Regions from separate parts of the Homo sapiens genome. Here all the other regions are linked to region 2. The links come from fine-mapping of genetic effects on gene expression. A gene starts in region 2. Each other region holds a variant in brackets. All regions are shown on one strand. Distances are between the middles of the regions.

The links. PIP is the estimated chance that this variant, and not a neighbour inherited with it, causes the effect.
Region 1: its variant is the best candidate, but not a certain one, in a credible set for the expression of EXT1 in tibial nerve (GTEx, PIP 0.75).
Region 3: its variant is the best candidate, but not a certain one, in a credible set for the expression of EXT1 in monocytes (TOPMed, PIP 0.79).

Annotation. Positions count from the first base shown.
Region 1 is chr8:117,904,930-117,909,929 of GRCh38, reverse strand. The region is part of intron 1 of EXT1 (exostosin glycosyltransferase 1); the gene reads left to right. Among named protein-coding and RNA genes, the nearest start is that of SNORD168, 13 kb to the left of the region's middle. The variant T/C (reference allele first, on the strand shown) is at 2,390.
Region 2 is chr8:118,108,775-118,114,110 of GRCh38, reverse strand. It overlaps EXT1 (exostosin glycosyltransferase 1), which reads left to right and starts at 2,285. Exons shown (of 11, transcript NM_000127.3): 1 at 2,285-4,026. The coding sequence starts at 3,065. RefSeq lists silencers at 1,863-2,242, 2,343-2,432.
Region 3 is chr8:117,843,013-117,848,012 of GRCh38, reverse strand. The region is part of intron 1 of EXT1 (exostosin glycosyltransferase 1); the gene reads left to right. Among named protein-coding and RNA genes, the nearest start is that of SNORD168, 75 kb to the left of the region's middle. The variant T/A (reference allele first, on the strand shown) is at 2,448.

The DNA of each region.
Region 1 (5,000 bases), 200 kb after region 2:
TGGGCATGGCAGTGCACAACAGTAATCCCAGCTACTTGGGAGGCTGAGGCAGGAGAATCGCTTGAACCTGGGAGGCGGAGGTTGCAGTGAGCTGAGATTGCACCATTGTACTCCCATCTGGGTGACAGAGCGAGACTCCATCTAAAAAATAAAAATAAAAAAAAATTAATTTACAACCTTTTCTGCAGCAGGATTTCCAGGAAATGAACTGGGAAATGGTGGCAATGAATGATGACAATAAATGATGGCAAATGCATGTACCATCCAACTATGATTTTGTTTCTTTTCAAACTATTAATAGCACCAGCTTTCAGATCCATGTCGGGCCCTCCTTCTCAAGGAACCCTTGCTCAGCTTAAATCTGCTTGTATTGTAAACTTGAAATAAATATAAAAAACATGGGAACAAAAAAATACATATTTTTTGAATTTATTCATTATTCACACAGTTCACTAAATCAAACTAGCATAATCTCTGCTGGTCCACAAACAGGATCACATACATTTACAGTTTTTAAAAGATGTTGGTTCTCCTTTTATTACATACTATTTGATCTCTTTAAACTCCAGTGTTCTCATCTACAATATGGCCTAATATGATGATAAAGATAACATGCTAGAAGTGAATTTTCTTTCTTGTAAATGAAAAACATAGTTTTAAATTTCCAATTGCAACTGAAGGGCCTGATTTGGCATTTCTCAATGTCTTACTCTTAGTTTAGAATAGGTTGCAATTATTGTTCTTTTTTAGCCATGACACCAAGTTATTCATCTATAGCAGCTTTTCTCTTTTTTTTTTGAGACAGAGTCTCGCTCTGTCGACCAGGCTGGAGTCCAACGGCCCGATCTCGGTTCACTTCAACCTCTGCCTCCTGGGTTCAAGCAATTCTCCTGCCTCAGCCTTCCGAGTAGCTGGGATTACAGGCGCGTACAACCACGCCCAGCTAATTTTTGTATTTTTAGTAGAGATGAGGTTTCGAGGTTTCACCATGTTGCCCAGGCTGGTTTTGAACTCCTGGGCTCAAGCGATCTGCCCTCCTCAGCCTCCCAAAACGGTCGGATTATAGGCGTGAACCACCGCACCCAGCCGCCTGGAATTTTTAAGCCTCAAGTTTGTTCCACTTTGAATGCAAGAAGCCACCTGCTCCTCTTTCTGTCATCAATTTAATTGTTTATAAATTGGGGCTAATAACGATTTCCTTAGGCCACTATATTCTTTACCCAGCTAGTTCCAAGTTGTTTTGTGTGTGTGTGTTTTGTTTTTGTTTTTTGTTGGTTTTTTTTGTTTTTGTTTTTGTTTTGAGATGGTGTCTCGCTCTGTTGCCCGGGCTGGAGTGCAGTGACACGATCTTGGCTCACTGCAACCTCTGCCTCCCGAGTTCAAGTGATTCTCCTGCCTCAGCCTCCTGAGTAGCTGGGACTACAGGCATACACCACCATGCCTAGCTAATTTTTGTATTTTTAGTAGAGGTGGGGTTTCACCATGTTGCCCAGGCTGGTCTTGAACTCCTGACCTCAGGTGATCTTCCTGCCTCAGCCTCCCAAAGTGCTGTGATTACAGGCATGAGACACCATGACCAGCAGTTCTAAGTTTTTATCATTGTCTGACCCTATTGTAAAATGAGTTTTTAAGAGACTGATTTGTAAGAGATACAGAATAGTTTTAAGTTTCATTTATTCTTTGTAAATGCAGTTTTGGGAAATAATTCTTTTGAGGGAACATATATCATCCCCCTTAATCCTGTATTACTGATAGCATTTGTTTGCTTAAAGAGTTTTTTTCCAGCACACAGTATTTATGCTCATTTTTGGATACCAAATGAATGTTACCTAAATTAGTGAAACTTTAATGTTTGGCTAAAATGAGCCAGAAAGCTGTTTCTTTAAACTTTAGATCCTATTTAAGAAATAGAAATGTATCCGATGTTTACGATTGCCCTTTAATTTTACAAGTGATGAAGAGGTAGGTATTTGGCTTTTTCAAAAATATTGCAGAGCCAATGCCATCTTACTGTTCAAGTGTAAAAACCCACATGTGGCAGGTGTATTTTATAGGCTTATAAATACCTGAACTTGCTCACAGGCTGATTACTAGACTTTATAGATCGCTTCAAAAAGTGAGAGTTTCCTAATAGTGGATAAATACTTACCCATTAATTTTTTTTTTAAATGTGAATTTAATCAGGAAGACCTAGAATAGATTCTTACCAAGTTCAATGTGGTATGAGAGTAAATCTCACAGCATAATTTATGAATTCATATATAATATGGCAGAACTGATAGCTATAATAAACAGCAAAGTGAGAGCATATTCCTAATTCAGAGTATCTCATTTTCCATTATTAACAATTAATGGAACTTTCCATTTTTAAGTGTCACTACTGAAAGTG[T/C]TAGCGTGCTCAACAGTAAGCAGGTGAATTCAGAATGTTATTTTAAGGCAATAGGGTTCCCACTGACAGCAAAAGTCAAAGGATGGACAGGAAGCACACTTCCTATTAGTAAGGGGAACCATCATGATGAAACAGATAGAGGCTTTGTCGATTGTTCTCTCCAACCCTTTGTGCAAGGCTCTGATGCTAGGTACCTAGAGCAAATGTTTCACAGTGTTTGAAAGCTCAGAAAAGTAAGGGTGAGGGTGGAGAGAAGTATGTTGTTAGGGAAAATTGCTAAACTCTTAGATGGACTGATTGCATTCGTTATTAAAAGACTAACAATTCATTTTCACCTTTTTATGTTTGGAGAATAATCAGGATATTAGTAGACTTTGCAGAGGCAGCTTTGTTGTTTGATCTGAGAATTGTTTGGGGGATGGAGAAAAGGAAGAAGGGATACCTTGAGGAAAGCTACATCCTTTATAGAGAAGTCAGGGCTGTATGTAAGTGAATGTGCATGGTCAGCCATGGTTTGGGCCATCTTAATTTCGTGGGGTGAGGGAGATATGCTACAGCAAACTGTTCCTTTTTTCTTGTTTGCTTTCTCTGCTTGGAATTCTGATTCTCCAAATGTTGAGTAATAGCCATTCCAAATTAGTCAAGCAATATTGGATGGGGTTTGTGGGGTGGAGTAAGACCTGTATGACAAGACCTCTGCCTTCTGCTCTGAGATCTGACACCTGCTCATGCCACCATCATTCTCCTTAAAATAGGTGTAAACCATACACCATTCTTTCCCAAGGAGACAACTGCTTTCCCTGTAAGACATTTTTAATTCGTGAATTTTTCAAGTGTTCATGATGTACATCATCTTTCGGTTTTGAGTATACTAGTTGTGTGTTAGAAGTTTAAGATACAGGGTATGAATTCTGTGCTTTAAGGAATTTCGTAGGAAACATTGCATGTGTTAAGACAGATTTGGGATACATTTTCTGAGGTCATAAGGTGTTGGAGAGCTGTCATACTGGAGGATATTTATTCCTGGGAATGACTAATAGATTTCAACTGATGGCAACTTAGATTGATTGGTAGTGGCTTCCTGGACTGCTGTGTTAGAAGAATTCTAAGGGTTCCTAAATTGAATGGGAAATAAATCTATTACTTTAGTCTGTCACAGGCATCAGTCTTATTATCATTATTGCTATTCCTGGTTTGTATATTCTCCTTACATGAAACTAGTTGGGTAGAGACTTAACATAAGCTAGTATTTAGATGGGTTCCGAACTTGTGTTCCAAGAATTAAATCAATCAAAATTAAATTTGAGCATTTGCCTTGTGAGAGATGCTGTGAAAGTAACACATGTTCAAAGTTAAAGTGTTAAGTGAAATAAGACCTTGAATGGTGAGGAATGGTCAAACAACTGCTGTAAGAAATACGAGGGATAGAATACCAAGCCAAGAGTCATGCAAATCAGGGATACTAAAGAATGAGGAAGCAGAGTTGGTTTTATGTAAGCAAAAGCAAATAGCAGGAAGTGTAGCCTTTTTAAAGAAATCTCAGTACCACAGCCTGTTGGGAGAGATTATTTGTGATTGGGAGAAATGGGAGCCATCAGCAAGCGGAGGGGCTTGGAAGTGATGGATTTTTTTCATGGTCTTTTTCTTCTGACTCCGTTCGAGATTATAGGTCCCTAGAAGGTAAAAATCTGGTCTTTCATTCCACAAAGTGTTTTTTGTTTTGTTTTTTTGAGACGGAGTCTCGCTCTTCTCCCAGGTTGGACTGCAGTGGCGCGATCTCGGCTCACTGCAAGCTCCGCCTCCCGGGTTCACGCCATTGTCCTGCCTCAGCCTCCCGAGTAGCTGGGACTGCAGGCGCCCGCCACCACGCCCGGCTAATTTTTTGTGTTTTTAGTACAGACGGGCTTTCACCGTGTTAGCCAGGATGATCTCGATCTCCTGACCTCGTGATCCACCCGCCTCGGCCTCCCAAAGTGCTGGGATTACAGGCGTGAGCCACCACGCCTGGCCTGTTTTGGTTTTTTTGAGACAGTCTCGCTCTGTCACCAGGCTGGAGTGCAGTGGTACGATTTCAGGTCACTGCAACCTCCGCCTCCCCCTTCTACAAAGTTTTATCAAGCTGCCCCCCATGTGCCAGGCACCATATTAAAACAACAGGACTTGGTGTGGACTCTGACCTTGATGATTTTTCAGAGCAGAGTAGGAATGGGGAAGGGAATAATACTTGTTGGTACCTACGTGCCTCTTGAAGGAAGTTACTCTTTACTCCATTATACAGAAGAGAAAAACCAAGGCTCAGGAATGTCAGCTTGCCCACGGTCAGCCAACAGAGCTAGATTTGAATCTAGGTCTCTCCCACTTGGAATTCTGGCTTCTTTTCACCAGAGTTCCTATAAGTACACTTTGATCAAGTGGTATATTTATAGGTCTTTTTGATTTAATTTTTTTCTTTGCTCAGAGCTAGAAATGGAATGTTCTTTTAGTTCTTTTTTGAAAGACACATTTAAAGTCAGCTTTTTTAATTGAGGCATAATATATATCCAAAAAAAGTTCACACATCTTAAATGTCCAGCTTGACCAGTTTTCACAAAGTGAGCACACCCTTTGTTAC
Region 2 (5,336 bases):
GAAATTAGCCATAATTAGGCAAGAAAAGCAGGAAGCACATGCCAAAACATAAACAGAACACAAAAGAGCAAGGAGGGTAGCTAGCTCCCCCTAAGGTCATGCAAAACAACTGGCAAGATATAGAGGGGCCAGGCGAGGTGGCTCATGCTGTAATCCCAGCACTTTGGGAGGCCAAGGTGGGCAGATCACTTGAGGTCAGGAGTTCGAGACCAGCCTTGCCAATACAGCAAAACCCCATCTCTACCAAAAATAAACAAAAATTAGCCAGGGCTGGTGGTGCACACCTGTAATCCCAGCTACTCCGGAGGCTGAGGGAGGCAAATCACTTGAATCTGGGAGGCAGAGTTTCTAGTGAGCCGAGATCCTGCCACTGCACTCCAGCATATATATATATATATATATATATATATATATAGAGAGAGAGAGAGAGAGAGAGAGAGAGAGAGAGAGAGAGAGAGAGAGAGAGCACCTCCAGTCCCACAGCCCCACTTCACAGGGCTGAGATAATCTGCACCCTGATCAGAAGAGAAGGCCTCCTGCCTTGAACTGTTGTTCTTAGCAACTTGGGCTGGGGGGAGCTTTGGGTCACATGTGGTTTCAATCACTGCCTTTATCTGCATCATTGTCACTGTATTTGGAAGATGACTGAATCCTTATTCCTGTCCCAGGCCTCTCTACATTGTGCAGGGGGTTCAAGTCAAATCTGGAAAAGCTGTCTCATCTTTGGCAGGTCAGAAATAGGGAGAGGCTTCACGAATGTATAGTAATGTCCCACCCATGCCCCTTCCCTGCTTTATTAAAACAAATCTGAAACAACAGAGGTCTGAAACTTTCCACTCTATCATTTCATACTGCCTTGTTATAACCCTGCCCTTCATCCACACCCCGCTGGGGTTTTTGCAGCCTGAGGGAAGCCGGGAAGTGTCTGCTCCTAGCTCTCAGTCACTCCCATAATAAACAATCACTAAACAGCCGGCTGCCCTAGGCAACTGTCTAGCTTGCCCGAGCCCTGAGACTTTAGCTAGGCCAGAGGGTGGGAGGTGTTTTCTGTAAAGCAGTGTTCAGGATCTGAGGCCAGGGAGTTTGACTTTGACCAGAGATACTGTTTGGGAGCCTAGCACATCTTTGTGGACCTGGAGGATCTTTAGCGGGACTGCTCCTCGGTTACCTGAGTTATCTAATGAAGTTCTTCCACTGGGAGTGGCAGGAGCTTGGGCCAAGGAGTGGGAGGTCAGTGAGGGAAGGACCAACTATTTGGCACTAATTGTACATAAGGTAGTTTTCCTGATGCAAGTGTTCCTTCTATAGCTGGGACAGTTGGCAATTCTACCAGTCATATGTCCTTAAGAGATATCTTTAACACCACCACCACCACCACCACCACCAAGAGAATAACATCACTTTGAGGACTGGGGCAAGCTTAAATTAACTGGTTTCCCTGCAGCCATTAGAAAATTTATTTTTTCTCTGTGATTGGATCTCTTGGAAGCTTTCTTCATAATAGACAGAGGGGGCTCAGGCAAGGCGGCCTAAGTAGATAATGAGGATTTAGGATAGCCGTCTTACACTCTTAGCACAGAGGCAGGCATGAAGAATTGCAACAATTCCTCTTGATTGTAATAATTCCTCTTTATTGTTGGGCATTGGGGTGTTTCTTTGGTTTAAAAAAATGTGCTATGTAGAGGAGGAGTAAGGGGAGATTGTTTTAATGCTTAGCAGAAAATTGAAATACTGGGTCTCGGAGAGTGGAAGGAGGGCTGGGAGAGGCAGCTTTCGGATCGGCGGTCGCTTTCTATGAAGTCTTCCTTTCCTCCCTGCTTCCCTCCTTCAAAGCATCTTTCTCTAGGCGTTCCGGCAGGCAGCCCAGGAGGCCAGATTCTCCAGGGCGCCCGGGGCCGCGCGGCACGGGGCCCCTGCCGGTGCCTCCTTCCCCGGCCGCCGCGTTTCCGCAGGCGCCTCTGGTCCCCGGCACGGCGCAGGCCGAGATCCGGGCCTGGGCGCGCCGAGGGGCCGCGGGGCTCGCACCGGGCCGTCCCGCGCTCCACCTGCCCGGCAGCCCGCCGGCAGCTTGCAACCCGGGAGCCCCGGCTCCCTGCGCCCCCTACGCCCCCAACGCCGCGCCGGCGCCTCGGCCCGCGGCCGGGGGTTATGAATGGGCGCAGCGGAAGCACCGCCCCCCCCGGACGTGACGCTCGGCCAATGGCAGCGCGGGCTGCGTGGATGGATGAGGTCAGCGCTGTCGTGTCGGGAATGGAATGTGTAAGTGTAACATTCAGAACCGGGTAACATTCGGCGACCGAACGCGGCGGTCGGCAGCGTTCGCGCGGGGGCCTGCGAAGCGCTGCTCGGGGCCGGCACTGCCCGCGGGGAGGACGCGCCGCCGCCGCCACCCAGCGCCGCCGCCGCCGCCGCCTCCAGCCGGGCCGCCGCGCGTCCCGGGGGCCGGCCCCGCGAGCGCAGGAGTAAACACCGCCGGAGTCTTGGAGCCGCTGCAGAAGGGAATAAAGAGAGATGCAGGGATTTGTGAGGTTACGGCGCCCCAGCTGCAAGATGCACTAGCCGGCTGAACCCGGGATCGGCTGACTTGTTGGAACCGGAGTGCTCTGCACGGAGAGTGGTGGATGAGTTGAAGTTGCCTTCCCGGGGCTCATTTTCCACGCTGCCGAGAGGAATCCGAGAGGCAAGGCAATCACTTCGTCTTGCCATTGATTGGGTATCGGGAGCTTTTTTTTTCTCCCCTCTCTCTTTCTTTTCCTCCGTCTTGTTGCATGCAAGAAAATTACAGTCCGCTGCTCGCCCGCCCTGGGTGCGAGATATTCAGCCCCGCTCTCTCCCGTGCATTGTGCAACCCAAAGATGAAAGACCGAAGGGGAGAAAGTTAAAGAAATCGCCCACATGCGCTGGATCAGTCCACGGCTTGGGGAAAGGCATCCAGAGAAGGTGGGAGCGGAGAGTTTGAAGTCTTTACAGGCGGGAAGATGGCGGACTGGAGCTGAAAGTGTTGATTGGGAAACTTGGGTGATTCTTGTGTTTATTTACAATCCTCTTGACCCAGGCAGGACACATGCAGGCCAAAAAACGCTATTTCATCCTGCTCTCAGCTGGCTCTTGTCTCGCCCTTTTGTTTTATTTCGGAGGCTTGCAGTTTAGGGCATCGAGGAGCCACAGCCGGAGAGAAGAACACAGCGGTAGGAATGGCTTGCACCACCCCAGTCCGGATCATTTCTGGCCCCGCTTCCCGGACGCTCTGCGCCCCTTCGTTCCTTGGGATCAATTGGAAAACGAGGATTCCAGCGTGCACATTTCCCCCCGGCAGAAGCGAGATGCCAACTCCAGCATCTACAAAGGCAAGAAGTGCCGCATGGAGTCCTGCTTCGATTTCACCCTTTGCAAGAAAAACGGCTTCAAAGTCTACGTATACCCACAGCAAAAAGGGGAGAAAATCGCCGAAAGTTACCAAAACATTCTAGCGGCCATCGAGGGCTCCAGGTTCTACACCTCGGACCCCAGCCAGGCGTGCCTCTTTGTCCTGAGTCTGGATACTTTAGACAGAGACCAGTTGTCACCTCAGTATGTGCACAATTTGAGATCCAAAGTGCAGAGTCTCCACTTGTGGAACAATGGTAGGAATCATTTAATTTTTAATTTATATTCCGGCACTTGGCCTGACTACACCGAGGACGTGGGGTTTGACATCGGCCAGGCGATGCTGGCCAAAGCCAGCATCAGTACTGAAAACTTCCGACCCAACTTTGATGTTTCTATTCCCCTCTTTTCTAAGGATCATCCCAGGACAGGAGGGGAGAGGGGGTTTTTGAAGTTCAACACCATCCCTCCTCTCAGGAAGTACATGCTGGTATTCAAGGGGAAGAGGTACCTGACAGGGATAGGATCAGACACCAGGAATGCCTTATATCACGTCCATAACGGGGAGGACGTTGTGCTCCTCACCACCTGCAAGCATGGCAAAGACTGGCAAAAGCACAAGGATTCTCGCTGTGACAGAGACAACACCGAGTATGAGAAGTAAGTGTCTGGGCTGGCGTGTCTTTGGGAGTCAGCCTTGGGCTCTGCCGGCCTTGGTCCAGGTGTGAAGTTGGGGGATGGGGTGAGGGCGGATGAGCCCTCAGTCCTCTTTCCCCTTTGAGCCTGGAACTGAGCAAATCCGGTTCGGGTGTGCAGCTAGAGGCTGGGGACAGAGAGTTGGAGCTCCTCGGGCAAACTGAAAAGCCTGGAGCACCTTCTCGAGCCAAGTAGGTGACAGTATCTCCCTCTTGCTTAGGAAACCTGCAGGGCGGCGTGTCTCCTGTTAAGAGTCGGGGTTAGATCCAAGTTTAGTAACTGCATTTCAGGCATGGGTACTGGAGGGTGTTTCTGAGGGTATCTAGAGACCCGGAGAGGCTGTGATCTACCCAAAGTCCAGAGACCTTCCACCAAGAGTGATGCTTTTGTTTGCTTTTCTCATGAGCGGGGGTACCTACTTTCCCAGGAGTTTTCCCAACTTCACATTTTCTGTAAGCCTGTAATTCATGTTAGCCGTGGAAATGTTTAAATTGTATCGAACTTTGTGTGGCCCTTTCCTCTCTCCCCCGTGGCATTGACTTTTATGAAGGGAGACTGTAAACTTGTTGGGCCTGTGGCTTTGCATGCATGCATGCATGCATGCATTCATTCATTCATTCATTTATTAATTCATTCATTTCTGTACATGTCCTGTCTCTTTCCTAGGATAAACTTTTTTTTTTTTTTTAAATGTGGGCCTCAGTCTCACTGTCTAAACTCCAGTTGCTAATTTAGATTTCCCGTTCCCTTTTTTCTTTATCTATTTGCATGTAAATTGTAGACTGTTACTCTTTGAATGGGTGTGAGATGCCTCCTTACCCTCTGTAGTGAGGCAAGTTTTGTCCAGTTGCTAAGTAACTGAATTGGTTACTTTGTAGACCTTTTCACTCTTCCTTTTTCCTTCCCCGTGACAGTAACTGACACGGGATTTGGAGTCAAAGCTAAATTCCACAAATCTGCTTTATCCTGAGCTTGGTGGACCAGTTTCCTAGTAGGTGGGGTTGCCGCCCAGACTCTCACTTACATCTGGCTGTGAAAGAGTTAGTGAGTTCCTACAGTGCATTTCCACGTTACGCCAGTTAAAAACCAGAGCAGCCTTGTGCTACCCAGGGAAGGAAGGGGAACCTCTCAGCTGAGTACAAGAGGAACTGGCAGAGGTTGGCAGATTTTGCAATTGATTCATGAAATGCAGAATAGGGGAAATGTTTCGCAAACCTGATTGGAACAGGAAGGGGTATGGTGGGAAACTGGCCTTGAAATGAAAGGTTTGATTG
Region 3 (5,000 bases), 270 kb after region 2:
GGTGGCAGCCCTGACTGTCAAAGTCACAAGGCAGAGGCTAGTGATGCAACAGTGGGAGAGAAAATGGGAAGGTGAGGTTGGTGGCATCAGCTGACATTCCACAAACTGTCATTGGATTCTCAAGATATTTTATAACCACTTAAGTGCAGGGGCCAGACAAAAGGATTAAACACTGACAAGAATGCAGGTCACGGGACAGACTCTGCACAGTGCCTGCCCTGGGGGTGAGAACAGTAGGAATGCCAAACATCCTCCTAATCCGAGGCCTGATCCAGGCTGGCCTTGCTGGAAAGGATATCTTGGATCAAGAAGGGAAGTGGTCAGACATTGGTTCGAGCTCAGTTTTCTGTGCAGAGGGAGGGAGTCATTGCTTTTTGGACTGGTGCAGGGTTTGTCATTGCAGAAGCCATGAGGAGGTTCTACAGCTTTTTATTCTTCAGTTCAGACATGGAGGAAGGCCAGGAGAAGGTTCAGTTTGAACCGCACTGTGCATGCATTTAACTTGATTTACAAATAATGCTATTTGTCAGGGCTGGTGAAACACAAATTTTCTACCCTCATCAGCGTGCAGGGAGAAAATGACATTTTTAACAAGCTGCCAGACCTGTAGAAATAAAAACAGAGAAGGGATTTTAAAATGTACAAAAGGAAGACTAAATAAATAACACGATTTTTCATTCCCCAAGTAAATTGGGCTTGGTGTAAGCATAGGAATGAACTCATTCTTGGAAGAACCCAGCATAAATCAAGAGTTGGGCATGTGTTTGTTAAAGTGGACATTGTTGTAATGAAGGGCTTGCATCTTATCTTTGTTATCTTCTTGCTTCCATAGCCCCTGTACACTTTAATGCAAATTGGTGGACACTGAGCACCTTACATTCATTTAACAACTCTTTTTTTGAGTAGTTACAGTAGGCCGGCCCTTAAGGTAGTTGTTGGGTCAACAGAAAGTAGGACCAAGGTCCTGTGTCCCGGAATCCAGGGGAAGGAAATGAGAAAAATGGGCAACTTAATACAGAGTGAGCAATAGAGAGTTAGCACAGGGTTCCCAAACTCCAGGGATCAGGGAAGCCTTCCTCTAGGCAGCAGGAGTGGAAGTTAAGAAAAAGAAGGAAAGAGGGGCATGTAGGGAAGAAGTGCTCCCTCCACAGCCAGCCTCCTGGGACTCAGATTGTCCTAGGTGGGGAGCTGACACCCTTAGAACAGACACACTGCGCTGCCCACCCCTATCCTGGTCTTCTCGGGCTGCTGTCCATACTTCCTGGCTCCATTCCACTTAACCAGTCCCATTGGCTTAGAGCCTGGCGAAAGGTAGTTAATGGTAAGATAATGACCTCAGGCTTCCCCATCACCATTGGGCCTGTGTGTGACTCTTCTGGACCCATTTATCCATCTGAGTTCACTGTTGCTGCTGGCTCTTTTATTGTTAATCCCCTCTTTTCCCCCTGCACCCCCTCCCTGCCACTGTACTCAGGTAGCCCTTTATTTAGCATTTTCAAAAACGTTTTGTTTTGAACCAGAGAATTTAGGCCCATGTGTCTTGGAATTGCATTTCTCTGAGAAGAGTTTTGGAAGTGGGTATTGCTGTGTATAAAAGCTGGTGCTGGCCAGGCACGATGGCTCACGCCTATAATCCCAACACTTTGGGAGGCCGAGGCAGGTGTATCACTTGAGGCCAGGAGTTCAAGACCAGCCTGACCAACATGATGAAACCCCATCTCTACTAAAAATACAAAAATTAACTGAGCATGGTGGCACACACCTGTAGTCCCACCTACTTGGGAGTCTGAGGCACAAGAATCACTTGAACCCAGGAGGCAGAGGTTTTAGTGAGCTGAGATCATGCCACTGCACTCCAGCCTGAGCAACAGAGCAAGAAGACTCTGCTCAAAGGGGGGAAAAAAGAAAAAGCTGGTGCTGCAAAACCTCTCCTCTTTCAGAAAGCTTCCTGAGATTAATGTCATGGGCACGATGTATTAAATGTCTCTTATTTTCACCTTTGCTGGCACCTCGTTACTCTTTCCTCCTAGGTAGGTTGAGAGATGACAGAGCTGGTCGTGGATCCCATCCTCCTTGCACAAACCGAACAAAACCTGTGACACTTTACTTCATCATCTGTAAACTGGGGTCAGTAGCACCTATTCTCCATGATGGTGGTAAAGATAAGGCACAGTAAAGATTACAGATTGTGCAGCTCAGTGCCCCACCCACAGGAAATGCTTAAAAAGTGGAGGTATTGTTGTTATTATAATTTATATCTGGCCAGGCATGGTGGCTCATGCCTGTCATCTCAATACTTTGGGGACTGGGAAGGATGTGGGAGGATCACTTGAGGCCAGGAGTTCAAGACCAGCCTGGGCAACATAGCAAGACTCGTCTCTATAAAAAATTAAAATTTAAAAAAAGTTTTTAAAAAGTTGTTATTAATAGCTATCTTTTATTTATTT[T/A]TTTTTTTTACTTACTTTTATATATTAGCCATTGAGCTGTTATTTAATGAGCAGGAATTCAGATGGTCATCTTTTACCCCTCTTGAAGTATGAGCTACACCTGGTACATGTTGTGTTCATTAATATACACAGGTAGCAATTACCACTTGGGCTAAGTTTAAGGTTCTGAACTGTCAGTAGACATTTAACCTAAGGATGGGGGGTGGAGTTTAGAGTTGATAAGAGATTATGACCTGGCGTGTTCAGTCAAGATGTTTGAGTCCAAGGACTCTTCTGACTCCCTCATCCCTGTGAAAGACAGGTGTATCTTTCCCCACGTCCCCAGTGGTTGTGAGGCTGTCATGAGATCATGGATATGAGAGTGAATGCCTCCCATAGGGGTTTCATGCCTCAGCCCCAGCCCACAAAATGTTATCTGCCTCCCTTCCCTATGCTGAAATGGATTTTAAGAGGACATGAAAAGGAGACTCTCTTCTGTGGAAAGCCAAGAAGTGTGAAAGGGTGAATATAAATTCCTGGCCCTGGTTTTAGCCACGCACTGCTCTCTGCGGTGGACAGCTTGGGATCAGCAGCCTCAGACTGAGGAGCGTCACAAGGAAATAAATTCTTAATCCTTGGCATGACTGGGGAGGTGGGGAGTGGTGTGGCAGTTCTAACAGCAGGCAATGCTCAAGGCAAAAAACTGTCTTGAGTAAGGAATTGTACCACCTCCAAATAGCGAGTGCCTTCCTGCTTGGGGACGCCAAGCATCCCTGAAGCTGCAGCCAACCTGGTCAGCCAGTCCCAGAGCCTAGCACTGCACATTTGCATAGCTCATTTGTACTATAGCAGCTCATTTGTGTGCACAGAGACTCTGTGTGAGTAGGTGTCATGGAGAAACTGTGGCTCCTTAAGTCCAGAGAATTCTCAAAGACACCAGGGACCTATACTTTTCCATATTCTATGTTTTCAAGTCTCCTAATTGAGATGGAACAGTGGCCAGTTGGACCCATTTTCCAGCTAAAAGATTGGTTCCCACTTATATATGTTTCTCAGTTCAAATCTTTGCCTTGGGCAATTCCGTACGACTGCATGCTGTAAACTTCAGTTTTCTCAAAAATAACTGAAATTTTAGGCCAGGTATGGTGGCTCACTCCTGTAATCCCACCACTTTGAGAGGCTGAGGTAGGAGGATCACTTGAGCCCAGGAGTTCAAGACCAGCCTGGGCAACAAAGTGAGACCCCATCTCTACAAAAAGTTTAAAAATTAGCTTGACATGGTGGTACATGCCTGTAGTCCCACCTACTCAGGAGGCTGAGACAGGAGGATTGCCTGAGCCCAGGAGGTCGGGGCTGCAGTGAACTGTGATCTCACCACTGCACTGCAGCCTGGGTGACAGAGCAAGATCTTGTCTCAAAATAATAATAATAATAATAATAATAATAATAGTAATTGAAATTTTAAACTGTTAAACCTTTAAAGGCCAAGGAAGGGTCTAAGGCAACATGGTTAGTAAATAGATGACAGAGTACCTTCTTAAACTGAGCTCCTGGTAGTGATCTGGGGTGAAGTTTTGAATGGGAGAGAAACAGCCCTTTTAAATTGGCAACGAATAGCCCATGCTTGAAACTAGGTGAACTGCTTAGGACCTGGCTTCATAAGACATGTCAGTTTTAGACACTGCATGTTGTATGGGCTGACCAAGGAGGCAATGTGATGTAATGGAAAGAAAATGGGATTTAGAATGAGAAATCCAGGAGTTGGAACACAGGCTGGTTGGTCCTAGCTGTGACCTGCATTGGAAGGGTTTTTGAGGTCTCCAAACTTAATTGCTTCTCTATGAAATTGGGTTATATGAAGTCCTGAGAACACCATTGGTACCATGTCATTCTTCTGCTCAAGCCCTTCAGTGACACCCCAGTCACCTGCAAGGGATCATCTCTGAGCTCTAGGAGATGTCATAGAAAGCCTTCCTAGTGGCAACCCACCAGTAACAGCAGCCCACACCCCCATACCTTCCCCTCCCCAAACTGGGTGGTTTCTCTCACCTTGGTGCCTTTGTTCCTGCTATGCTATCTCTACCCCCAGGAATTCCCATCACCTCCTCTTACCCCTGTGCCTGGTTGCTTCTTGTACATCCTTTAAGATTTAGCTCAGGGTCTCACTTCCTCCAGGAGGCCTCCCTGCCTACATGTGGCCATTGCTTCTCTTCTCTGTATAACACCCACCTCTACCTCATGTCCAATCCTAGCACTCCTCTCGCTGACTAATCATCATTTGATAACACATGTTGTTTATTCTGGACAGTGAGCTCCCTGAAGAGTGCCTGACACATGGTAGACATTCAACTAATGCTTGGTGAATGAATGAAAAAGGCGCAAGGAGGTGCTCAAAGGATGTTAATTTCATTTCTCTCATCCCCATGCACTTTAGAGAACTACAACAGTCATAAATTATTTTTATTTTCTTTCTTTCTTTTTTTCTTAAGGGATATTATTCAAACTTGTGTATAAGGAAAGATTAATTACTTATGAGGATGGGGACTGGAGGGAGTAGATCAGCTGTAGATGTTA